7 linked regions of the Homo sapiens genome follow. The protein of the gene in region 1 purifies or fractionates together with the protein of each later gene. This does not show direct contact. Each region holds a gene or a part of one and is shown in the gene's direction. Other genes may lie near its edges. The genes, in order: KCNC4, RHBDD1, ABCB10, PDZD8, LEMD2, HERC3 and SLC25A51.

Region 1 (3,500 bases):
CACCTTCTAGTTTCTTTCCCAGACCTTTCAGTACCACTCTCCCCATGGAAGCCCCAGGCCACCCTGAGCCTAACCAGCCCCTGAAAGGTGTGTGTCCAGCTTTGTTGGGCATGTGTTCTGTGGACTGGCAGAAATGGGAATAGTGATCTGGTGCCTAGAAGGAAGTGGTCCAGCAACCCCAGCAAAAGGCAGCAGATGGAGGGTGCTCAGACCTCTACCCTCGCCTGTGTTCCTTTGTTCACCCCCGTGTCCTATCCTTGGGCCTGGATTTGGCCTTCTCTCCCGCCGACCATCCCAAACAGGCAGTGGCTTCCACTGTGTCCTTGTTCAGGCCCAAAGCCTTGCTCTGGCTGGACCGTGCTAAGCAGACAGTCTAGAACGAGTGGTCCCTGTGTAGGACTCGAGCACACAGAGCTGAGTGCCACGCATCCCTGCTTTCCTCCCTGGGCTGTGAGGGGCTCAGTGGAAATAGGTGTGGAAGAGGCCGTGAGGGTACCAGTCAGGAGGGACCACGAGGTACTGGGAGTGGACTGCACCTGGGGAAGGAGTTTCACCGGCACGTGCACGGGGCAGGAGAGCCAGCATCTCACCATCCAGTATCCCTGGGGTGCCTGTGGGGCCTGTCTGCTCTGTTTTCAAGATGCCTCCACACTGCTTCTTGGCAACAGGCATGTAGCTCAGCCAATTAGAGTGACCTTCGAGAGGGAACAGGTGGGTTGCTGGGAAACAGGCCCTGCTAAGCAAGCGTGGCAGTTAACATTGCCAAACTCCCAATGCACACTCGGCAACTTTCTCCACGCCGTACCGTGCCGCACTTCTCCACACTCAGGTTATGCTTAAGACCAGGAGTGAGTGGGTCTGGGCCTCCTCCACACAGGCCCATGTATCAGAGTGTCAGTTCCCTGGGAGGATGGTGGCAGGTGCTAATTAGGGCTTCTTAGAGTCAAGAAGGCTGATGCTGGAGGCTGTGGGGTCTTTGTCTAGCTGGGCTATCAAGGAGCTGGTGGGAAGCTTACCTGGGGGCAGGACAGGACAAAAGTCAGCTGGGTGTGGGGCCCTGGAGTCTGTCCTCAGGAGCCCAGGAGACCTGAGGCCAGGGAGAGTCAAGGAGGGCCAGGCCCCTCCACACCAGCCCAGGGCCACCCGCCCTGCAGTGTCTCCTGGAGCGTGGACCCTGTGGAGCTGCGCCCACTGACCCATGTGCCTTTTCTTCACCAAGGCTGTGGAAAGTCCCGGAGTCTAAACAACATAGTTGGAGCAGCTGGAACCAGCCTGGGGCTGTCTCCACTGGCATCGCGTTACAGCTTGCCCTACCCTCTGAAAAAGTTCCTGCTCACCCCCTTCCACCCCCTCACCGGCCCACCCCCTGGTCACTCTGCCCCTTAGCTGCACCTTCCCCTCTGGGCACACGCGCACAAACAGGCACCCTTCCATGCCCTCAGCGCTCACTCCCCAGGGCCCACGCGGGCAGCAGGAGGGAGCAGGGGGGAGCAGTCAGGACAGAGGAGAACTTAGGCCCCCGAGCCTGCCCTCCATAGCTCCAAGCTTCCCAAAAGGTTCAGCTCTGGAACCGGAGAGCAAAGGGGAAAGCAATCCCAGAGCTTCTCCCCATATTGGCCTCTTCCTGGGCTGTAGGTGCACACCCCGGACCTGTCTTTCGGCCTTGCCTTCCTCTCGGGGTCCCACCAGGGCCAGTCTCAGCCACCAGGCGTTTATGTGTGCACAGAGCGCCTGGGGCCAGTCAGCCTTGTTGGGGAGCCACGCCTATGTTAATATCTTTAATCACTGTGAATGTATTTCCATTCCTCATAGCCTTTAACCAGTAGCCGAACAGCCTGTCTGTCTGTCTGTCTGTCCACCCCACACCCAGACCAGCAAGGAACAAGGCTGTTATGTCGGGCATCTCTGCTGGTGTAAAGGTGGTTTGACTCCTTGGAAGAGCAGTGCCTATGGGCAGTGCTGCCCTGGGAGAAGAGGCCTGATGTTTTCTATCCCTGGCTTGGGGCGCAGGTAGGGGTCCCTAGCGTTGTAGCTTCAGGCTTGGTGCAGGCCGTGGGCGGGCTGCCTAGGCGAGGGAGGCCCTTCCCTCAGGAAGCCTCTGCCCAGATTCAGTGGTGACTCCCACTGGCGGCACCTGGTGTCCCTTCTGCGCCCCGAGCTGCAGCATCGCTCTCCACGCTGCTTCCTCTGCTTCTGCGACAGTTCTTCTTCCCTCTCCCTCTCCCTCAAACTCCCAGCCCTGCCTCTGAGTCACCTGCCATTCCCACCCAGCCTCTGCGCTCTGTATTCCTGCCAGAACCGGAGACTCATCTAATTTCTATAATTAAGTGTATTCATTTACCTAACGAGCCCAGGAGCACAACAGGTTTGTGAGTCACTGGGTGAGCAGGGGTACACCTTGCGCAGGGGCAGCTGAGGGGAAGTGTGGGGACAGAAGCCATCTTGCCCCCACCTGCTCCTGCCGCTCCCGGGAAGGGGGCCCTCCACAGCCTGAGGAACAAGGTTGCCTCAGCCAAGACGTTTCCTCTTTCACCTGATGGGAATTAGACCTGACAGCAGAGCCGTGCGCCTGGCAATTTTTAGAGTCAGATTATGCAATTTTGCGGAGAGAATGACTAAGTAAGGTCCAGATCTGCTCCTTCCATGGTCAGCAAAGATAGGATGGCAGGGCAGCGTCGGGGCTGGGCAGAGGCTGGGAAATCTGAGGCTCCCCAAAAGGCGGACTGGGCAGAGCAAATTATTGCATGGGGTTGGGGGTGTTGTGTAAAGCCTGTGCCCGGAGTGTCCCCATCTCGGCACCTCCCTCAGTCTTGGGCAGACACAGAAATGTCCTTCTGGAAAGGTCTGTTCAGAGTGGGCACTGGGATACCCCCACCCTGCAGTGGTTTGTGGGGCCTGCCTCCCACTTGCTCTCAGAATGAAGTGACCTGACCCATAAGAAGTGAGAAGAGGGGATGTGGGGGCCTCCATGCAACTGCCCTTCAGGAGGGAGCAGGCCCTTGAAGTGACAGGGATGGGGAAGCCTGTGGAACAGGATGGAGATGCGAGGGCCCCTCCCCCAACAGCGAGAGGACTCCCTGGCATGGAGGGCCTGGGCTCTGACAGGGACACAACGAGCCGGGTGTGCAGGTTCACAGGGATGCCACCACTGTTTTCTCCTCTGACTTGCCTTTCTGGTTCAGGGAACCGAGGCCGCTATTTCTGTGGCAGCCCTCAAGTTGTCAGGAGCCCAAGTTTCCACGGCACCCACCGCCTCCTTCCCTCTCTTCCCTCCCACAGGGCTGGGTCTGGCTCATGGCACCCCTACGGTGGGCACAGATGTCCCTGGGCGACAAGATGCAGCATTGCCAGGCTGGAGCCCTAATGCCTCGGGGAGCTGGCTCCCACACATCCCTCCTGGCTCTCTGGCTTCATCTGGGAGAGATAGAACCCAGATAGCAGGAGGGCTGAGTAGACTGTCTGCCCTTACAACCTCTCAGCACCTCTGGGCCTGCCCAGGG
Region 2 (3,329 bases), on another chromosome or scaffold:
ATTGGCCATTGTACCAGCCACTTGTCCTAGCCAAATGTCCAAAACACGCCCTTGGGCCCCGCCACGTTACAATCCACAGATTGTCTGTCTGAGTCGTTTAAGGCATTTCCTGGTGCTTGTGTTCCATGAATAAAAGGACAAAGTCAGAAGATCACTGATGTCTTACTGTCAACAGAGATATTTTAAAAGAGAGAAGCAGGAAAAGATCTTCCTTTTTTGATCTACAACTTATATAGTTTTCTGATTATGCACATAATAGATATGCCTTCCAGATGCATAAGGCAAACATCTGGAAAGAAATATACCCAAATCTTAGCAGGGGTTATCTTTGGGAGTGGAGTACATGGGATTTTGCTTTCTTCATTTTTATAATTTTATATTACTGTCTTGGAAGATGTGTTTATGTGTGTGTGTTACTTTTACAATCAGGAAAACATATTTAATAACATATAGTCAAGAAAACAGACTTAAAAATAAATACTATGTGTCCATTGAGAAAATTCACAATATAAACAGAAATACAAATAAATACATACACAATTTTAAAGTCACCTGTAGCCCTACCCTTAGAGGTACCCAGGGTTAACATTTTGGTGGTATTGTCTTATCAATTTTTCCGTTGATACATTCAGCAAATTTGGAGCACATTGACCATGGAGTTTTGTGTCCAAATCCAATCTGAATTTACCTGGAAGAGGCCTTGACACCTGCATGGAAATGAGCTAAGAAAACCACTGGAGCCTTGGGAGCTCTTTGGCCTCCTGGCTGGCCCAGTAATATCTGAGCTCCTTTGGTTAATTTATAACTGATATAAAACTACATCTTCTTTATAATATAAATTGTACCTGTGAGTCTAGAAGCTTTAAATGTGTTTAAATTAAAATATTCAAGCTAAATGTTACTGCTCTCTCCCAAATTCTGTAAGTTTGACTCCCGTTACCCCAATTAGAAGTAACTTCTTTGTTTCATGCCACTTTTATAGCATTTGGTAATTCTGCTATAACACATCTTGCCCCTATTATTAACTGTGCACAGCTACACAAAGGTGTGCCTTCTACGTGGGAACATGGATTGTGAATGACTCTGTAATGAGGCCTGAGTCTTAGTTATCTTTCCACTCACTCCCCGTCTCCCCTTTCCAACCCCAAAGGCTCACGATAGGGGCTCACTAAATGTCAGTGTTTCACCAAAGTATTTTTTCCATTGTATTAAGAGTCCAGTCACTGTATATGGAAGTATTTTATTTTTTATTTTTTTATATCACTTGAGTCCACTAGTAGTACTTCCTTGCTCTGTTTGACTTGTCAGATACAAAGACACGGGATTAGATTTTGGGTGGTAAAATTGTGATACGCATGGCTGTTGATGGAGTGGAACATCTTAGTGATGTGAGAAAGGTCATTTTAGTTATAAATGTAAACCAATTACTTTAGCACAACAATAAAGATGTTCTGGAAATTATTATAATTATTTTAGTTAATGGACTTGCCTGTAACAAGTGCTTATGTTTGGAATGTCCATTTTATTTTATTTTCCTCTACAATAAGGAATCCCTAAAGTTATGCCAACAAACTGGAATTGGATTGAGAAAGACAAAAGCAAGTGAGCAAGTGTATTAGACTAATTATCTCTAGTAGGGAATAAGCACTTAGAGCTAATTTTTTAATTTGGTTTATTTATTAGTAGCTCCCTGATTGTCTGTTAAGCCCCTGGTTCCCACAGTTTGGTGTGGTCAGTCAACTTAAGCGACCTTTTAATGCAGAATCTTTACTTGGTTCTGAAGAGGAGGCAGTAGTTAAAATTGCTTCCTCTTAATGACTCTGAATGTATTGCCTGTGATTCCAAAGTTGTACATAATTGTTCAGACCTCCTCCATCCTTTTAAATTGCCTGCTGCAGTAAATAACTAGTTTGAGTAGAACTAGATCCTGTCTATCTATTTGGCACATGTTCTGCTGCCTGGGGAGTAAGCAAGCTAAAGGGATGAGAAAGACCACCTCCCCCTACCCTGGAAATTGCACTGCAAGGCAGGGCGAGAATGGGGTAGCTGGCAGACCTGGCCTCCTTGTTCCCAGTCTTAGTTTTTCTTGAGAGATTCAGTATTCAGTAAAGAATAGCATTCAATTAGTCAAAAAATATATATATAACTTCTTCCTTTCCCTTCCCATGAATCATTGCAGTCATTCCCTAAGTTTCTTCTCTTTTTTTTTCATGGCTGCTAGTATTTTATTTTAGAATCACAGACTCTCAGCTTAGAGAGTCACAGTATCTCAATTATTTGCTCTGTTCAATACTTAACAATACCTCCTCACTCAATTCTACATAACTCCAGCTTAGTCTTCCAAAATTCACTTTCATGATGCCACTCAGCATCTCAAATACCTTTCATTGGCTCTCTGCTGCCAAAGGATAAAGGTCAAAGTCATTAGCCTCAACAGTGGGCTTCAACCAGCCTTTGGACCTCAGCCCCATTTATCCATCACAGAGGCTGGTAACTAGTCTCACTGCTCAGGCTGTGAGTGTTCCTGATCTTGTGACATTCTGTGCTGTGCTTTTACATGGAACAGCTCTTTCCTCTCTCTTGGCCCATTCAGATCCTCCTCATCCAGCCCCCATCTGAATCCTGTAACAGACACAACCACATCTACACAGTTTCCACATACCACTTGGAATTGCTGGTTATGCTGCAATGAGAGAATGTCTTTGTCTTTAAATTGTAAGCTTCATGAGGGCAGGGACCATCTGTTTCTCTGTCTCTCCTCACAGTGCCTTGAGCAGTACGTTGTCTGGAATGTCAGAACCAATAAATACTTGTGGATTGAAACAAAAAGAGAAGCTCATTTATACTGTCACCAGTGGCGCACATAAACACTAGTGCCTGGTGCTTATTGATATCATTGTAGGTCTTTTTTTTTTCCCTTGAATCAATCACATCAAGGAAAGAATGATGGAAAGCATTTGCTGGTAGAAATAGAGACTTCAGGGCCTTTGTCAGCCTGAAGACATGTCCCACTGCATCGAATGCTGTGACCTGGTACACAAAGCTCAAGATTCCCACACGACCAAGAAGTGTCACCAAGGAGTCCCTGTGAGTAGTACCGAATCTTGCCATGTGCTTTTTACAGGTCTGCGTTGGATGTGTTTGTGCTAACATTTTTTCCTTCTGTGGTATTTAGGGGCAGAGAGAGAATGATCTTAACATCTCGATCAGATGATAGATGAATTGGCAGATTTAGATATGTGATTTATACTTTAGAAAAACTAAAATGTTGCTAATATAATAGAAATCATTAAATTTGGTCATAATAGGTATTGCTGCTTGGGAAGAGA
Region 3 (3,500 bases), about 120 Mb from region 1:
GCTGAGCTGAAAAGGAATTCCAATGTTAATTTGTTAATTTTTAGAAAAATACAAAAATCTTTTTTCAAAAATGCAGCTTTATATTTTAATAATAATACCTCCATCTGTCTCAGCATTTTGCTGGGTATGCCTCCTAAACTGTGTGAACAGAAAACTTTGATTGCATCAGAAACTTTAAAAACACAGTCTACCATGAAATATGTACAGACGTGTGCTGAAAGCAGCTTTAGCATAACTGTGTTACATTCCTCTTCTAAAGGAAGGCCTAAGCCGCCCCTTTGGGGAGGAATTCGCAGCTGTCTTCATACAGATGTAAGGTCCCTTTTCACTGATAATTCTCCATCGTATCACTTTGGCCAGAAGGACTCTTAAAAGATGCAGGTGCTTGAGGAGGAGCAGGGTGTGGATTGATGGGATAAGCGACACTTCATCAGAACCGTCTGGCTGTGCCTGGCAGATAGATGAGGCTCTGACCTGAGTGAGTTAGGGGCAGGGTTTTAGGAGCAAATGTGGGCCCCTACAGTACTGTGAGATTAGGGCAAAGCTGCCTCCTGGAGGTTTTTTGTGTGGGGGGCTTCGGCGGGGTGGGCAGCATGCCTTCATTAAACTGTGGACTGCACACATGTATCCCCTCCGCTGGGGCATGTTCAGTTGGTGCCTGTGTGGAGGACTCAGGAGGGCTCCTCTCACTGCAGTTACTGATAAGGGGCTGGTGTGTGGTTTGAGGGCAGGACTGCTCTGAGAACCTGAAGCCTGCTGGCAGCTTTTGCTGAGTTTGTAGTTGCATTTTATGAAGATGGGCCGTGAGTGACCACAGTGAATATAGTGACAAAAGCAGTGGGTATGGTGGGCAAGGAGGCCAGAGTAGCTACTTCCTGAAGCCCAGTGAGGATGGAGATCCCGCAGGGACAGTGCCCTGTGGGGGCTGGGATGGATGAACCTTTGAAATCGGAACTGCCCCCGAAAGCCAGGGATGTGCGTGTGCTACAGAAATACATTGTTTCAGCGAAACTGAGCATTCTGTAGCTGTGCTGTCACATCAGATTCCAGAAGGACAGTAGAGAAAAAATGTAAAATATCTTACTAATTTTTTATGTTGATCATGTGTGGATAATATTTTGGATATATTGGGTCAAGTAAAATGTTATTAAAATTAATTTTACGTATTCCTTTTTATAATGTGGCAACTAGAGAAGTTTAAATTACCTAGGTGGCTCCCATCGTATGTCTGTTAGAGTCCATGGCGAACCCTCCTGTGGTTCATGGGACAGGTACCCCTAACTGTTTTATTTTAATTTTGTCTTTGGGATACTCCTAACTCTAGAGCATGCTAATAGCATGGACAGAGACAGTCTGATCTTGCACCAGACACATGGGGGCTCAGATCTTTCTTCTCCAGATTTCCAGAACCTGGAGTCCCTGGCTTCTTCCTCTACTCCCTTCTCATCTGTCAGCCGCTCATGTCCTCACTCATTCTCTACCCAGCGCAGATGCCGAGTCTCTTCACTCAGCCTCCATCTCCCCCACACCCTCAACTCCTGTGTTCTCCATCACACCCACCTGCATCCGTGGAAATGTGTCCCAGACTCCAGCAAACCAAACATGTCTAAAAACCAAAGTTACCTTTCTCCGCAAAGCATCTTTCCTCTTCTGTCTCTTGGTTCAGTGAGAGAGACTGCAGTGCGAACCTCTTGGCCTTGGCCAGAGACATGGGTTGTTCTTATAATGGTAGTAATAAAGATAATAGTTAATATTTCTTGTGTACTCAGCCCTGGGCATTGTACCAGATGCTTTGAATATGTGTGTAGTTTACTCATAATTCTGTGAGGGAGGGATTGTTTCTATTGCCATTTTACAAATGAGGAAACTGGGCACAGAGAGATGGAGTGACTTATGCAAGGTCAAACAGCTAGATGGCAGAGCTTAAAAGGAGAACTTAAGATAACGAATGCCTAACCTAGGAGGGCCGGTTCTGAGGTTGAGTTCGTCAGGGTTCCGACCCAATGCTGACCAACTCAACCTCAAAACGGCCCTCCTAGGTTAGGCATTCCTCATCCTAAATCCTCCCTTTAACCCTCATCTTATCCTCATTTTTCAGAGAGGAAAAATGCTCACATCCAACCAGTCATCACGTCCTAGTTCTTAAAAATATCTGTAGTCCTATACTCTGCCCTTTATCCCTCTGTCCCCAGCCTACTTCGCCCTAAGTTTGCTTCTCACCTAGGGCACTAGAACAGTGCTCTGTCCGCTGCTCCTTTCGCTCTGTAGCCAGAGTGGATCATTTAAAAATGCAAATCTGGCTGGGTGCGGTGGCTCACGCCTGTAATCCCAGTACTTTGGGAGGCTGAGGCGGGCGGATCACCTGAGGTCGGCAGTTCAAGACCAGCCTGACCAACATGGAGAAACCTCATCTCTACTAAAAATACAAAATTAGCCAGGCATAGTGGCGCATGCCTGTAATCCCAGCCACTCGGGAGGCTGAGGCGGGAGAATCGCTTGAACCTGGGAGGTGGAGGTTGCAGTGAGCTGAGATTGCGCCATTGCACTGGGCAACAAGAGGGAAACTCTATCTCAAAAAAAAAAAGCAAATCTGGCTGGATCATTCCCCAGTGTAAAGCCCTTTTAGGCCGACCTTGCCACAAAATCCTTCTGTTCTATAATCTAGAGGCTTCATTTCATTTCTCAGTTCTCCTTCCTGTGCACCCATGAGGTCTCTGCCCCTGCTCCATCCTGCCAGGCTTTCTGCTCCCTTCCCTGATTCCAAGGTGAGGCCTGTGCTTCCTCTTCCTCTGCTTGGGATGTGGGAAGATGCCAAAGACAGGCTTTGTCGCAGAATGTGGTTCTGTGATGTGTAAATTGGGAGACCTTGCGTAGGCTCCCTCTCTCTGTGTTCGAGATTCCTCTCTGAAAAACGAGGATAAGATGAGGGTGAAAGGGAGGATTTAAGATGATGGATGCCAGATCCTTCAGATAATGGTGAGGACTCTGAAGTGCTGCCTTTGAGTCCTTGAATGACAGTGGGGATTGCTGTACCTGCCTGATATAACCAGATGGGTGCCCTGTTCAGCAGTGGGCAGGTGGTAGGCACAGTGTACAGCTTCCTCCAACCACCCCCAACCTCTTCTATCCAGCGCTGTTGTCCAGCAATCTGCAATTCAGATTTTCCTTCCCCTTTCTTTTGAAGGATATTTGTTTCCATCTTTGCTGCAATTCAGTAGAATGAGGTAACAAAGATACTTGAAGGTATCTGTCAAGAAATAGATAATGGGAGAAGTTGCTGGGGCCGCATCAGGCAAGGGTGGGGGCAAGCAAGAGACTTAACTATGGAGAAAAGGTGTGGGAGAATTTCAGAATTGCAGTATGCTCAGTTGTGTCCAGGGCTTGTGGTGGAATCTGAAATGATGTTTATGGAGCAAGTCTAAAGTATTCATTAATATCAGAAGACAGTGATATGTAGTCAGATCTTGATTAACAAGAATCCAGTTAACTAAAAGCCAAAA
Region 4 (3,500 bases), on another chromosome or scaffold:
CTGATTTGTAATTGAGCGCCATAAACACTAATTGAATCCTTGTCAACAGCTGGGATGTAGCACTCTGCCTGTTTTTTTTTTTTAAATCAGTTGTTTGAATGAGGACACATAGCATGATGATGTTGTTGTTAATTCACAGATGATGTTAATCTAGTATCCACATTCCTGAAAATTGGATGGCAGGTTTATTTAGAAAACAAAATGATCTTGATGGGTTAGAATAGGACATCTCATTAACAATGTAACTTTTTTTTTTTAAATAAAGATGGGGTCTCACCATGTTGCCCAGGTTGGTCTTGAACTCCTGGGCTCAAATGGTCCTCCCACCTCAGCCCTCCTTAGTAGCTGCGATTACAGGTGTGCACCACCATCCCCATCATCCCCACCACATGATAACTCTTTTTTTTTTTCTGAGGTGGAGTCTCGCTTTGTTGCCCGGGCTGGAGTGCAGTGGTGTGATCTCAGCTCACTTCAACCTCTGCCTCCCGGGTTCATGCCATTCTCCTGCCTCAGGCTCCCGAGTAGCTGGGACTACAGGCACTGCCACCACGCCTGGCTAATTTTTTGTATTTTTAGTAGAGACGGGGTTTCACCGTGTTAGCCAGGATTGTCTTAATCTCCTGACCTCCTGATCCGCCCACCTCGGCCTCCCAAGTGCTGGGATTACAGGCGTGAACCACTGTGCCCGGCCGATAACTCTTAATAAAGTATAAATGTAAACTCTTTTCCTTTGCCTATTCCCAAAAAAGAAACTTGAAGAATACACTGGCCGGGTGGGATGGCTCACGCCTTTAATCCTAGCACTTTGGGAGGCTGAGGTGGGCGGATCACTTGAGCCCAGAAGTTTGAGACCAGCCTGGGCAACAGTGGTGAAACCCGATCTCTACACAAAAAAATACAAAAACTTGCCAGGCGTAGTGGTGCACGCCTGTAGTCCCAGCTGCTTGGGAGGCTGAGGTGAGAGAATCACTTGCGCCTGGGAGGTGGAGGTTGCAGTGAGCCAGGATTGTGCCACTGCATTCCAGCCTAGGTGACAGAGTGAGACCCTGTCTCAAAAAAAAAAAAAAAAAAAAAAAGGATACACCATACAAAATGGAGTTTCCAAAGCACATATTATGAATGACATAGATCATTTTCATTATATTTGAAAAAAGCAAGATTCAGAATTATATTCATGATTATAATTGTATTGACTACTATGTCTCAGTATTATTGAGACAAATCTCAATTTTGTGTTAAATATATATTAGAAAATATATAGAATAGTTCTAGATTGTATAATTAGGAATGGTTTTCTTTTTATTTTGCCTTTCTGTTTATTTCCCAATTTTCTACAATGAGCATGGAGCAAGGAGTAATAATAAAACACATTGAAGATAAAGTGTTTAATTTTTTTGATGATTTAAATGTGTAGCCTAAGGATAGTTAATTTATATTGTTACAGTAAAGATTTTCTCCTTCCTTTATTTGCCATGATAGAAAAGTCAGCATCAGCCATGGTGCTCTCTGCACATAACAGTCTGTTACTGTTTTTTTCCTCTATTACTAGGAATCCATTGAATCAGTTTTCATTTTTTTCCCCTTTATCAAAGGTTGAATTAATAAAAGGAAATTTACAAAGTGTTGGACTTACACTTCGTCTTGTCCAGTCAACTGATGGGTATGCTGGGCACGTCATCATTGAAACTGTGGCTCCAAACTCGCCTGCTGCAATTGCAGATCTTCAGCGGGGAGATCGACTTATCGCCATTGGAGGTAATTATGCTAATATGCATTATACTTTACCTTTACAGATAAACTACAAAGTAGGTGTGAGGTTTTTCCTTTCTTCCTTTTTCCTTATTTCTATAATATGCATATGTCACTTTTATAATGGAAATAAAGTAATAAACTTTATTATAAATAAAAATTCAAAGGAGGCCTTCAAAATACATTTAAAACATACATGCCATTTTAGTTCTAGTGTATAAATCTTTAAAATACTTTGTTTAGACCACTTTTATATAACCACTCTAATCCTTCCCTTCCCACCTTCTACTACTCTATTTATTTTTTCTTGAATGTGAAAGTAAGGGCAAATAAACAGGTTATCTTTCTGTACGACTACCACCATTGCTACTCTGAACCTAAAATTGGTAGTATTAGCACTACTGCCCCCATCACTTAGCACTAGATGATGAGCAGAAGAACCAACATTCCTTTTCCAGGAGGGCACATCTGAACTGTCCTGTGATCCTGTGTCATCTAAATGGCCAGCCATTTGTTAGTATGTTGTTGCTCAGAATTCAGCCCAAATCACTGGTGGAAAAATGTGTCACTTACATGCCTTCCTATCACTTGGATTGTTAACAGTAAAAACTCTCTGAAGATAGCAGGTTATTTGCTTGTATATAAATGTCTAAGCAGTAGGACTCACTGTGCACAGCAGTGAGGGGAAAGTCCAAGCCTTTTCAACCTTTGTAGTACCTGTCCCATCTATTCTAGGCTTGTTGAGAGATTTCTTGAACATATGGTTGGTCACAGTTGATCTGAAAAGGGCAATGTGATATTTTCTTTCACAGCTTAGACAATAAATAAGTTAGAACAGTTCCCAAATCAAGGTGCAGTTGTCCTTGGTTACATGTCAAAGAAACTCTGCCTTTGATTCAAATCCACCTTGACAATAAAATAATGAAAATTATTTAGTTGCATATCTGGGAGCCCAATTAAGTCAATATTTTCACATGGGAATCTCTGATCATGGCATAAGCAGTGCTTCTCAGACTTTCCCATGTATGCCAGTCACCCAGACCTGATGTTAAAATGTGCATTCTGAATCAGGAGACCTGTAGTGAGGCCCAAGATTCTTCATTTCTCACAGACTCCTCCCAAATGATGATGCTTATGCATAAACACTTAGGGAGGCATAAAATAGACATCATTCATTATATTAATATCATTTAATATTTTGGTTTTAGCTACAGGATAAAATTAATTTTTTCGGTCTTTTTTGGGGGTTGTGTTTCAATTACACAAGTAGTAAATACCTATTATCAAAAATAAATTAATTAACCTAAGCGATATAAATGTATACAGAGTGAAAAAGCAAAAGTCATCCCTTGACATCTAACATTTGTTAATTACAATAACAACAGGCCGGGCTCAGTGGCTCATGCCTGTAATCCCAGCACTTTGGGAGGCCGAGGCGGGTGGATCACCTGAGGTCAGGAGTTCGAGACCAGCCTGGCCAACATGGTGAAACCCATCTCTACTGAAAATATGAAAATTAGCTGGGCATGGTGGCAGGCGCCTGTAATCCCAGCTACTCAGGAGGCTGAGGCAGGAGAATTGCTTGAACCTGGGAGGCAGAGGTTGCAGTGAGCTGAGATCATACCATTGCACTCCAGCCTGGGCAACAAGAGCGAAACTCCATCTCAAATAATAATAATAATATGTATTAAGATGAAGGGCAGATACAATACACATTCATTGTTTTAAAAAAAAGAAAAACCTTGGAACAT
Region 5 (3,945 bases), on another chromosome or scaffold:
ATAAATGTTTGGGAATGGGAGTTGAGGGATGTGGAAGGAAGATTATAAACTGGTTCTATTTCCAGTTGCCACATTCCCTTGCTTCCCTTAGGGGTTTCCTGCTAAGAGCCTTCATGTAACCAAATCACCTGCCCTGTGGGAGGCTCTACACAGCACTGACACTGCAAAGATGTGGGTTAAGTATAAACACGCATGAACGTGTGCCAGGCACTGTCCCAAGCACCTTAGCCAAACTACCTCTTCTAATCCTCACAGCAACTCTATTGAGGTTTACTGGCAAATAGGCTAACAATGTTAATTGAATATGATCACACATCTAATAGTTGTGAGTAGGGATTTGAAATCGAACTGTCTGGCTCCAAAGCCCACAACCTAAACCACCAGTGAGGCTGCAAGACCGTGTATCTCTGGAGTCTTCTCTCTCCCATGTCTCCTTGTAAAAATCCCATTACGCAGACACAGGCCCTCCGCAGAGAAGCCTCAACTGCCCATTCGAACCCAAGGGCATTTTGCTCCTCTGCCTCCACCATGGATGCTGCGTCTCCTCCAGGCTGGCGCTCCTTGGGGGCCAGTGTCTGTCCTAAGGCAGGGATCGCACCTACTTGGTGCTCAGTGTCGCCCAGTTAACAAGCCCGAAGTCGGGACAGGGTCTTGGAGCATGCCTGGAGTGTACTCTAAGACCCAAATAAAACCGGATCACACATCAGTCCCCAAGCCCAGAGAGGCAAATCATCCTGTCTCTCCATTCGTGGCAGTGGCTTCGTTCACCATTAAGCAATTCATCTATTAAATCAACGCTGACTTTACTGAACGCTTACCACCTGCCAGAGGCAGAGCTAGGGTTGGAGGACTCAGAGATTAATACCGCTTGATCTAACAAACAAAGGGAAGTGGGAGAGCGGAGAGAGAGAGAAAAACAAAACAAAACAAAACAAAACAAAAAATTTAATCCCCCTTGGACCTTCCCACCATGGCGGCTCTAAGAGCCACGTCAGACCGCCTCATCATGGCCGACCAAAGGCCAAGTGCAGACCTTCCCAACATGGCGACCGACCTTCCCATCATGGCGCGTGGCCCCGCCCGCTCCGCCGCGCCTGCGGGAGGGAGCAGTTCCGGGTGCGGTGCGCGCCAGGGGCGGGCGGGGGGCGGCGTCCTGGCCATGGCCGGCCTGTCGGACCTGGAACTGCGGCGGGAGCTGCAGGCCCTGGGCTTCCAGCCAGGACCCATCACCGACACCACCCGGGATGTCTACCGCAACAAGCTGCGCCGCCTGCGGGGCGAGGCCCGGCTGCGCGACGAGGAGCGGCTGCGGGAGGAGGCCCGGCCGCGGGGCGAGGAGCGGTTACGGGAAGAGGCCCGGTTACGCGAGGATGCGCCGCTGCGCGCCCGGCCCGCCGCGGCCTCTCCGCGGGCGGAGCCCTGGCTCTCCCAGCCGGCCTCGGGCTCGGCCTACGCGACCCCTGGGGCCTACGGTGATATCCGGCCCTCCGCGGCTTCCTGGGTAGGGAGCCGCGGCCTCGCCTATCCTGCCCGCCCGGCGCAACTCAGGCGCCGCGCCTCGGTCCGGGGCAGCTCCGAGGAGGACGAGGACGCCCGGACGCCCGACAGGGCCACGCAGGGCCCGGGTCTCGCGGCCCGCCGCTGGTGGGCAGCGTCTCCCGCCCCGGCGCGGCTGCCTTCCTCCCTCCTCGGTCCCGACCCGCGCCCGGGCCTGCGGGCGACTCGAGCGGGCCCTGCTGGCGCGGCGAGGGCCCGGCCTGAGGTGGGGCGCCGGCTGGAGCGCTGGCTCTCTCGGCTTCTGCTCTGGGCCAGCCTAGGGCTACTGCTCGTCTTCCTGGGCATCCTTTGGGTGAAGATGGGCAAGCCCTCAGCGCCGCAGGAGGCGGAGGACAACAGTACGTCCTGGGCCGGCGCAGGGGAGGGCCCTGGGCGCGCGTGTGTCCGCCGGAGGACCCCCCGTTCCTGTCGGCGCCAGGCCGCGCACTTCCGGCCTTGTCAGCTGCCTCTGACTGTCTTCTCATTTCCAGGCCTGCCTTCTTCCAGCTGTGGGAAGAGAGGGCCAAGGCTCCTGCATCTGCAATAATTTCTGCCTTCACTTTCTCCTGTTCTCCTTTTCTGCCCCAGCCCTCCCTTCTAACGTCTCCCTTTCAATCACAAGCTGTAGTCACTGCTCCTCCAACCTCTGGTTTTCTCCCTGGAGAGGAAGCCACACCCCCCTCTAACAGATTCACCCCATCCGTTTGGGTTCTTCCCTTTTGACCTCTGGCTTACACATTTAGTGCCTGTTTGAAGGCACTCCAGATTTCAGTGGCCCACAGATAGGATCTGGTTGGGGGTCCCACCTTTGTAGCACCAAAAAGTCCACTCTCCACTTCTTTGAATCACAGGGCCGCCGCTTTGTCAACAGGAGAATCTACCAGCCTTGCTTGCCAGACAGGTTAAACTGATCGCAACTGGAGGCCCTTATCATTGCTTGTAGCACCCTCATGGAGTGTGTTAAGAGAGAGACTACGACTCAAGGATGCTCACAGCCATCCTTCTGGCCACATTTAAGTTACATGGTTAGATATGCCAATGAGAGGTCTGCAGGATACAGTATGTATCCGGAATAGCTGAGGATTGTGTGTTTTCTGAAAGGAAACATAGAGATCATTTCATTATACATTTAGGTATAAAGGGCCACTGTAGTTCACCAACTTTTAATACTCTTTACAAAGCACGAATGTGACTAATACTGTTCCCAGCTTCCAGCCAAGGCCACATCCTTTCATGCCTAGCAGGAACTGCCAAAATACAGGAAAAAGCTAAAGTATGTCTTAGCTGGTGTGGCAGATGGATGTTTGGGAGTGTACAAGTCTGTGGGCAAGGGTATTAACAGACTCGTGTGCAAACACCCAAATGATTTCCCCACTATGAGAGCATTTATCAACTATGTGAATAGTTTGTCGACCTGCTAGAGAAATTAAGGAGACCTGGGAGTGTCATGGTACTATAACTACACTGGTGATGTCAAACAGTATCACACTGGTACTCACTGCTGAGATGCTTTAAGACAACAGCGCTAGAATGTATGCTGGTATTTACCTGGACTTCCCCTCCCATTACGGTGTTAATCTCTGTTTAACATATCATTGTTTACAAAACTCCTATATTTTGTTTTGTTTGGGCCTAACTCCCTGAGTTAAGCAGGGAAGGCCCATTTGATCCCGTTTTACAGACGAGGAGACAGAGGTTCAGAGTGGTTGAGTTGCCCAAGAAACTTGAGCTAATCATTTTCAGCTGGGACAAGGACCCAGCTATCGTAATTCCTAATCCAGGATTTGGATACCCTTACATTTTGCTGTCTGCATTTTAAAAGTGCCTTCCTTAGATGACATCTTTCTAATCCCCACCCTTGGCTTGGTAATGCTTTACTCCCTCCAAATGTTGTGAGTAGTCTCTTTTTGTATTCCTTTCTCAACCCACACTTAATTTCCTCTGTGTTTCTTTTCTTGGTCTCAGTGAAGTTATTGCCAGTGGACTGTGAGAGAAAAACAGATGAGGTGAGTTTGAGTTTCTCTGGTTTTTATTATTCTTCCTGAGGATATTAGCCTCCATCAGGAGGTAAACTTCCCCAGAAAAAGAATAGGATCATTTTCAGGGAGTGCTTCCTGTAATGTACCAGAGTCACATTGTGTTCTGTGATGTTCTTGTCAGGCTCAATTGTGGCAGTGAAGGAATACTTGAAATAGAATTGACCTCCCAAAATCCAACCCTGGGCTTGTTATGGACACTTTCCCATCAAATGTAGCATCGGGGACTTTGATCTGCCTGAGTCAATCTAGGGGGATGCAGTAGGTTGTTGTTGAAGGACCCTCAAGCTCCCTGGCACTGGGAGGAAGGGCCGGCGTTTCTAAGCATCAGGAGGCCAAGTTCTCAATTCCACATTCTCTGTCTCCAGTGGTG
Region 6 (3,500 bases), on another chromosome or scaffold:
TTGCAGCGAATTTCATAATTGTGTATTTTGAAGGAAAATAAAAGATTCTGCTCTTCTAGGAGCAAGCAAGAGAGTGAATGAGGAAAAATGGGTGTAAGGACCTTGGAGATCAAAATGCCCAGCGATGCAGACCGTTGCTGAAACTAGACCTTTAAAGTCATGGACATCAGCAGCTACAAGATTTAGGGGTCCAACTGGAGTGTACTTTGAAGTGAAAGCTGTGCTAATGGCTGGCTTCTCTCCAATGTGTTGAACTTCTCTCCTGAAAGCTAGATGATTTTAGTTGCTTTTTTCTTTAGTTCCGGCAGAGCATTGTGATGACCTAGGCCGTATTTATAGTTAGGATTGATAGTTTATTTACAGATACACATCTTTTTTGTGGTTGCTATTTAATTCTCTTGGTGGGCAGTTTTTATTTGACCAATTGAAGATTCCATTACTGTAACTCAGTTGGAAGAATTTTTGAAGTTTTCTTGAACAATAGTCCTTTTTATTATCTTTTTTCATAAATTGTTTTTACTAGTCAGTCAGGGATGAGGCCATACTTCAGGCTGTTTACACAGGATTGTGCTTGGCCAAAGCACCCAGAACTCAGATGACTCTCAAGGACTGACTCGTGCCAGATAAACTACAAAAAAAGCTGATAGACCCAGGACGCCAAATTAATAATGAGAATTAGAAATCCTAATAAGACTGAGATGCTTTGGTTACCTGGTCACAGTATTCTATCCCTGTAGTAGAATCTGCCCTAGAAACCAAGTTATTTAAGGTTGCTTGCTAAGCAAGGCAATTGGTTGGGTGAATTTAGTGACAACTGTTATGGAATCTGATCCACCCATCCACTTTTAGGAAAGAATTACTTAGCGGGTCAGATAGCCAGGTTGACTGATCAGGGTCCCTGTTTTCTCTGGAGAGTGGTGCAGACACATTGGGAAGTCTGGCCTTTTGGTTATCTACTTTCTAAGCTCCTTACTATACAGCACAGCATAGTGTCTCTTTCTTTTCCTTTACTTCATCTTTTTTTTGTTAGTTTCACTTTCTTCATCTGTAAATTAGAGATAATGGCAGTACCTGTCTCATAGAAGATGAAATGAGCCAACATCTGTGAAGCACATAGAAAAGTACCAGACTCAGAGTAAGCTCAAATCAGGTCTTATCTGCTGTTATTATTAATAATGTCATTATTAATATTATCAGTCAGGAGTTTCTTTTTATTGCAAGTGAAAGAAACCTGATTCAAACAAGCATAAATAAATAAGCTTAAGTAAACAAAGAAGGGACTTGTTATACTCTGTATATAGTTAGGTTCTGTAAAGTCATGGTGAATACCATATTAGTGAATACAGAGCCATTGTTTCTGAGGAAATACAGGATTAGGTTCTTGTAGGCTGTGGTCAAGAGATTTTTATCAGCCAGCTGACGCATAACCTTTTTTTATGTGTGTTTCTGTCTAGACAGCCTATTTAATATATATTTCTTACTAATATACACAATATTTCTTGGTAATAAAACACTAGTTGAGAAGGGTTTAACATTTTCTTGACCCTGTGTAATGTGACAGTGTTTTTGGCTTTCAGCCTCACATCAGTGCTATCCACTGTGATTTTTATTTTTTATGGGTTGTCATCTCATGAATCCACAGATTTAATTGCTTTTCCATTGTATCTATAGCTTCATTATGTACTCTGGATATTACTTTAGCTCTCTCCAGGGGAGGCCTCACATACAGATCAGCAGATTTCCTGTTCCATATTTTGGATGTACCCGCTTGTTGATTCATTAACATTGAACTCACAGCCAACACTATAACTCATGCATGAAAGAAACTTACCTAATACACATTTTTTTCTCTGTAAGGCACATCACAACCTTCTTGCACCTAAGAACACTAGAAGGTAGGAGAGATAAGACAAATTTATGAAATACTAAAAACGAAAAAATCCATTAATGTGGATAATAGCAATTGAGCAAGTTGGGAAAAATAAATTATTTCTAGATTATGTGAGCTTGCTGGTCTATTAGTGTATCATTAGACCACCAACCACCACCACCACTACCCTGCCAGTTTTTCATTTTATTTCTACTTCCCTCTCCACAATATTTGTAGTTAATTCAAAGAATAACATTTAATCTTAATACTTTTTTAGTGTAGAGTCTAGACAAGGAATAAAAATCTTGGGAAGAAGCAGAACTTTCTGTGTAAGACAGCAAATTGAGATTCAGTTTTATATTTTATTTTGGGCCTTTTCATGCCTTTCCTGAAAGCCTCAAGAGTTCAAAGCATACCTCAGGATTACAATAAGGCAGTTTTAAAATTGGTATATACCAATTAAGGCCATTGAGTTAAATCCAAAGTACTGTAATTGTTGTCAAGAGAGGTTGAAAGTACGAGCTTCCTCTGTGTTGTAATCTTTAATTTGTAGCCATTTGGGCATGCTTTTATCTTGGGAGAAAAGAGTTTGTCATTTTAAAAGCTGACTTTGCATAGAAGAGCCAATTAGCTGTCTCCTTCATATGTTGACAGTTCTCTCCTGTAGATTGGCTGATATATTCAGCTTTGATGTGTTCGCCTAGTATTATAATTCAAAGTAAGTCTTCACCATTTCTGTTAGAATCCATCCTCTTTTCATTAGGATGAAATGAATGTACCAATGAAAAGATTAGGGAAGACACCTTTGAAGTCTGCAATCTTGTCTTGAAATCCTGATATTTTGACCTGTAGGACCTAGAACAGTGATTCTTAATATGGAGAGACTAGCATGTTTAAGAAGTATGATTAGAAAAGGATATTCAGGGGCCGGGCGCGGTGGCTTACGCCTGTAATCCCAGCACTTTGGGAGGCCGAGGCGGGCGGATCACGAGGTCAGGAGATCGAGACCATCCCGGCTAAAACGGTGAAACCCCGTCTCTACTAAAAATACAAAAAATTAGCCGGGCGTAGTGGCGGGCGCCTGTAGTCCCAGCTACTTGGGAGGCTGAGGCAGGAGAATGGCGTGAACCCGGGAGGCGGAGCTTGCAGTGAGCCGAGATCCCGCCACTGCACTCCAGCCTGGGCGACAGAGCGAGACTCCGTCTCAAAAAAAAAAAAAAAAAAGAAAAGGATATTCAGAATTATAATTAAAATGTATATTTGGAAACCGGCTGGGCTCCGTGGCTCACACCTGTGATCCAAGCACTTTGGGAGGCCAAGGCGGGCTAATTACTTGAGGTCAGGAGTTCAAGACCAGCCTGCCCAACATGGCGAAACCCTGTCTCTACTAAAATACCAAAAAAATAGTGGGGTGTGGTGGCACACGCCTGTAATCCCAGCTACTTGAGAGACTGAGGCAGGAGAATTACTTGAACCTGTGAGGCGTAGGTTGCAGTGAGCTGAGATTGCGCCACTGCACTCCAGCCTGGGAGACAGAGCGAGACTTGGTCTCCAAAAAAAAAAAAAAAAAAAAAAAAGTATGTTTGGAAACTGAAATGTAATCTGAATGTCCTTAAGACCAATCTTCTGC
Region 7 (3,500 bases), on another chromosome or scaffold:
TTTATTATAATTTAATTTTGTTCAGGAAGTATTTATCAGTTCAATAAGAAGAAAGAATTACACATATTATAAAAGAGAAGGCAAAATTTTTTGCAAGTGATCTTTTACATGGTGGAAACTAAAACGTTCACCAAAAAACTGAGACATAGTAAGAATTCAGTAAGTTAGCTGGTTCTAACCTTAATACCCAAGAATTGTTAGTTGTTTTCTTATGCAAACGAAAACTAGTTAGAAAACTGATGGAAGTAAATAGCCTATGAATAATAATAATCAGGCAGGGCAAAGTGGCTCATGTCTGTAATCTCAGCACTTTGGGAGGCTGAGGCAGGAGGATCACTTGAGCCCAGAAGTTGAAGACCAGGCTGGGCAACATAGTGAAACCCCATCTCAAAAAGAAAAAAAATTTAAAAATTTAAAATATAATAGTAACCAAAAAGGTGAAATACATAGATGTAAGAAATAATATCTATGTGAAGAAAATTTTAATGCTTTAAGGTTTGCAAAAAGTTATAAGTAAATAGGAAGATACCAAGTTCTTGTAAAGTTAAGATTCAATTTTGAAAAGATGATCAGTATTTAAAATTAAGATAGACTTGTCATGTCCTGTCTGTCATTCCCTCTGGACAGCTAGTTAATGACCTCCTGCTGTACGGGGCCTTGATACCTTCTATGATTGCACTTATCTCCCTATAGTCTAATTAATTTGCACGTCTTATCTCCCCTGACATAGGTACCGGACATACATATGCTCTTTAATTTTCACTCTTTCCATCTAAATACCACTAAAAATTCAAAGTTAATACCGTTCTGAACCTTAAATATTTATTTATTGAGACAGAGCTTCGCACTTGTCACCCAGGCTGGAGTGCAGTGGTGCAATCTCGGCTCACTGCAACCTCCGCCTCCTGGGTTCAAGTGATTCTCCTGCCTCAGCCTTCAGAGTAGGTGGGACAACAGGTGCACACCACCACGCCTGGCTAATTTTTGTATTTTTAGTGGAGATGGAGTTTCGCCATGTTGGCCAGACTGGTCTCGAACTCCTGACTTCAAGTGATCCACCCACCTCGGCCTCCCAAAATACTGGGACTACCGGCGTGAGCCACTGTGCCCGGCCACCCAGCCTATTTTAAATATATATGCCTCATTCTGTGGATACATCTTCCACCATAAAACACCAACAGGATTTTGGGGAAGAGTACACCGAAGTTTACCTGAGAAAAGTGAGAGGGCTAGAAAAACTGTAATAATTATCTTTGGAGGGGGAAGCCCTACTAGATGATGAACTATATTTTGATGCTGCAATAGGTTAAAACAGGTTAGTACTAGAGAAGAAATACCAGGCTCTTTGTGGAAAAGAATGGAGTGCAGAAATAAACGCAAACGCCCGTGGGTATTTAGATTATGCTGCAACTGATGGAAACAAAGTTCAGTCATCAGTGATGTTGGCAGTCTGTTATCTTTGCCTCACTTCTTAAACTGATATTCCAGAGATATTACAGTATACGTGATAATTCACCATAAAAATTATGGAAGGGCCTGTAATCCGAGCACTTTGGGAAGCCGAGGCAGGCAGGTCACTTGAGGCCAGGAGTTTGAGACCAGCCTGGCCAATGTGGCAAAACCTTGTCTTTACTAAAAATATAAAAATTAGCAGGGCATGGCAGCACACACCTATCATCCCAGCTACTTGGGAGGCTGAGGCAGGAGAATCACTTGAACCAGGAAGGCAGAGGTTGCAGTGAGCCGAGATCATGCCTCTGCGCTCTATCCTAGATGATAGAGTGAGACTCTCTCAAAAAAAAAAAAAAAGTTGTGGAAGGAAGCCTGGATTACTTGTTAATAATTTTGGAGTAATGAAGACCTTAGGAGAACATGAAATCTAGAAGTTGAGATATATTTAATATTCAAATTAAGAACTTCAGTGTATAAAAATGATATAGACATGGAAAAATTATTTGCCACAATTTGACTAAAATAGATTCATTTGCTTCATATCTAAAAGATACTTTACAAATCAGTAAGACAACCAAAGTGCCAGCAGAAAAATGGGCAACATATATGAAAATGTATAGTAAAGAAGTGGTCAATAGAAATGAAAGATGGGGAATCATATTCAAAAATTTTAAATGGCAGGCAAGGTGGCTCACTCCTTACAATCCCAGCACTTTGGGAAGCTGAGGCATTAGGATCGCTTGAGGCTAGGGGTTGGAGACCAGCCTGGCTAACATAACAAGACCCCTTCTCTACAAAAAAAAAAAAAAAGCCGAATGTGGTGGTGGATACCTGTAGTTCCAGCTACTCAGGAGGCTGAGGCAGGAGGGTCATTTGAACCTAGGAGTTCGAGGTTACAGTAAACCATGACTGTGCCACTGCATCGTAGCCTGGGCAACAGAATGAGACCTTGTCTCAAAAAAAAAAAAGTTTTTAATGGCAAAACAATTCACATGGTATAAGTACAAGGTTGCCCATTGCTGCATTGTTTAAAGGCGAAATAGAAAAAAACAATACCCAAAGGAATAGTTCTACTATAAGGACACATGCACAGCCATGTTCACTGCAGCACTATTCACAGTAGCAAAGACATGGAATCAACCTAAATGCCCATCAGTAGTACACGGGATAAAGAAGACGTGGTACACATACACCATGGAATACTATGCAGGCATAAAAAGAGCAAGATTGTGCCCTTTGCTGGAACATGGATGGAGCTGGAAGCCATTATTCTTAGCATACTAACTCAGGAACAGAAAACCAAATACCACATGTTCTCACTTACAAGTGGAAGCTAAATGATGTGAACTCATGGACACATAGAGAGGAACAACACACACTGGGGCCCATAGGAGGGTGGAGGGTGGGAGGAGGGAGAGGATCAGGAAAGATAACTAATGGGTACTAGGCTTAATACCTGGGTGGCGAAATAATCTGTACAACAAACCCCATGGCACAAGTTTACATAACAAACCTGCACACGTACCTCAGAACTTAAAATTTTTTGTAAAAGGCCAGGCCAGTGGCTCATACCTGTAATCCCTGCACTTTGGGAGGCCAAGGCGGACAGATCACTTGAGCCCAGGAGTTCAAGACCAGCCTGGCCAACAAGTTGATAACCCATCTCTACAAAAATAGAAAAATTAGCCAGGCATGGTGGCGGGCACCTGTAATCCCAGCTACTCGGGAGGCTGAGGCAGGAGAATCAGTTGAACCCAGGAGGTGGAGGTTGCAGTGAGCCGAGATCGCACCACTGCATTCCAGCCTGGGCAACAAAGCAAGACTCTGCCTCAAAAAAAAAAAAAAAGTTAAAAAAAAAGGTGAGTGGGGGCAGGTTTAATTAGACCTTTCCTCTAGACACTCTCTGGAAGGTCTTGGAATTAAAAATGTATATCTTTTGTATACCCACTCACACACTTGGCAAGCTGAATTGTCCACAGAGTTTTCCAAACCTTAATAATACAAAACCATAAAAAAAAACAGCAACCATAAATAGGAGGTAGAATAAA

The links.
Region 2: the proteins of KCNC4 (region 1) and RHBDD1 purify together in Homo sapiens (affinity purification with mass spectrometry; 2 studies listed by BioGRID and IntAct, with this or other methods). This does not show direct contact.
Region 3: the proteins of KCNC4 (region 1) and ABCB10 purify together in Homo sapiens (affinity purification with mass spectrometry; 2 studies listed by BioGRID and IntAct, with this or other methods). This does not show direct contact.
Region 4: the proteins of KCNC4 (region 1) and PDZD8 purify together in Homo sapiens (affinity purification with mass spectrometry; 2 studies listed by BioGRID and IntAct, with this or other methods). This does not show direct contact.
Region 5: the proteins of KCNC4 (region 1) and LEMD2 purify together in Homo sapiens (affinity purification with mass spectrometry; one large-scale study listed by BioGRID and IntAct). This does not show direct contact.
Region 6: the proteins of KCNC4 (region 1) and HERC3 purify together in Homo sapiens (affinity purification with mass spectrometry; 2 studies listed by BioGRID and IntAct, with this or other methods). This does not show direct contact.
Region 7: the proteins of KCNC4 (region 1) and SLC25A51 purify together in Homo sapiens (affinity purification with mass spectrometry; 2 studies listed by BioGRID and IntAct, with this or other methods). This does not show direct contact.

The regions. Positions count from the first base shown.
Region 1 is NC_000001.11:110,227,314-110,230,813, forward strand, and holds part of KCNC4 (voltage-gated potassium channel KCNC4), read left to right. Parts: intron 1-1,219; coding exon of another isoform or gene 1,220-1,386; exon of another isoform or gene 1,387-1,485; intron 1,486-3,500. UniProt on the Homo sapiens protein: Voltage-gated potassium channel that opens in response to the voltage difference across the membrane, forming a potassium-selective channel through which potassium ions pass in accordance with their electrochemical gradient.
Region 2 is NC_000002.12:226,996,382-226,999,710, forward strand, and holds the end of RHBDD1 (rhomboid-related protein 4), read left to right. Parts: 3' UTR 1-2,829; downstream 2,830-3,329. UniProt on the Homo sapiens protein: Intramembrane-cleaving serine protease that cleaves single transmembrane or multi-pass membrane proteins in the hydrophobic plane of the membrane, luminal loops and juxtamembrane regions.
Region 3 is NC_000001.11:229,552,208-229,555,707, reverse strand, and holds part of ABCB10 (ATP-binding cassette sub-family B member 10, mitochondrial), read left to right. Parts: intron 1-3,500.
Region 4 is NC_000010.11:117,288,441-117,291,940, reverse strand, and holds part of PDZD8 (PDZ domain-containing protein 8), read left to right. Parts: intron 1-1,592; coding exon 1,593-1,755; intron 1,756-3,500. UniProt on the Homo sapiens protein: Molecular tethering protein that connects endoplasmic reticulum and mitochondria membranes. PDZD8-dependent endoplasmic reticulum-mitochondria membrane tethering is essential for endoplasmic reticulum-mitochondria Ca(2+) transfer.
Region 5 is NC_000006.12:33,786,331-33,790,275, reverse strand, and holds the start of LEMD2 (LEM domain-containing protein 2), read left to right. Parts: upstream 1-1,145; 5' UTR 1,146-1,159; coding exon 1,160-1,895; intron 1,896-3,333; exon of another isoform or gene 3,334-3,501; coding exon 3,502-3,542; intron 3,543-3,945. UniProt on the Homo sapiens protein: Nuclear lamina-associated inner nuclear membrane protein that is involved in nuclear structure organization, maintenance of nuclear envelope (NE) integrity and NE reformation after mitosis.
Region 6 is NC_000004.12:88,598,980-88,602,479, forward strand, and holds part of HERC3 (probable E3 ubiquitin-protein ligase HERC3), read left to right. Parts: intron 1-3,500. UniProt on the Homo sapiens protein: E3 ubiquitin-protein ligase which accepts ubiquitin from an E2 ubiquitin-conjugating enzyme in the form of a thioester and then directly transfers the ubiquitin to targeted substrates.
Region 7 is NC_000009.12:37,894,128-37,897,627, reverse strand, and holds part of SLC25A51 (mitochondrial nicotinamide adenine dinucleotide transporter SLC25A51), read left to right. Parts: intron 1-3,500. UniProt on the Homo sapiens protein: Mitochondrial membrane carrier protein that mediates the import of NAD(+) into mitochondria. Mitochondrial NAD(+) is required for glycolysis and mitochondrial respiration.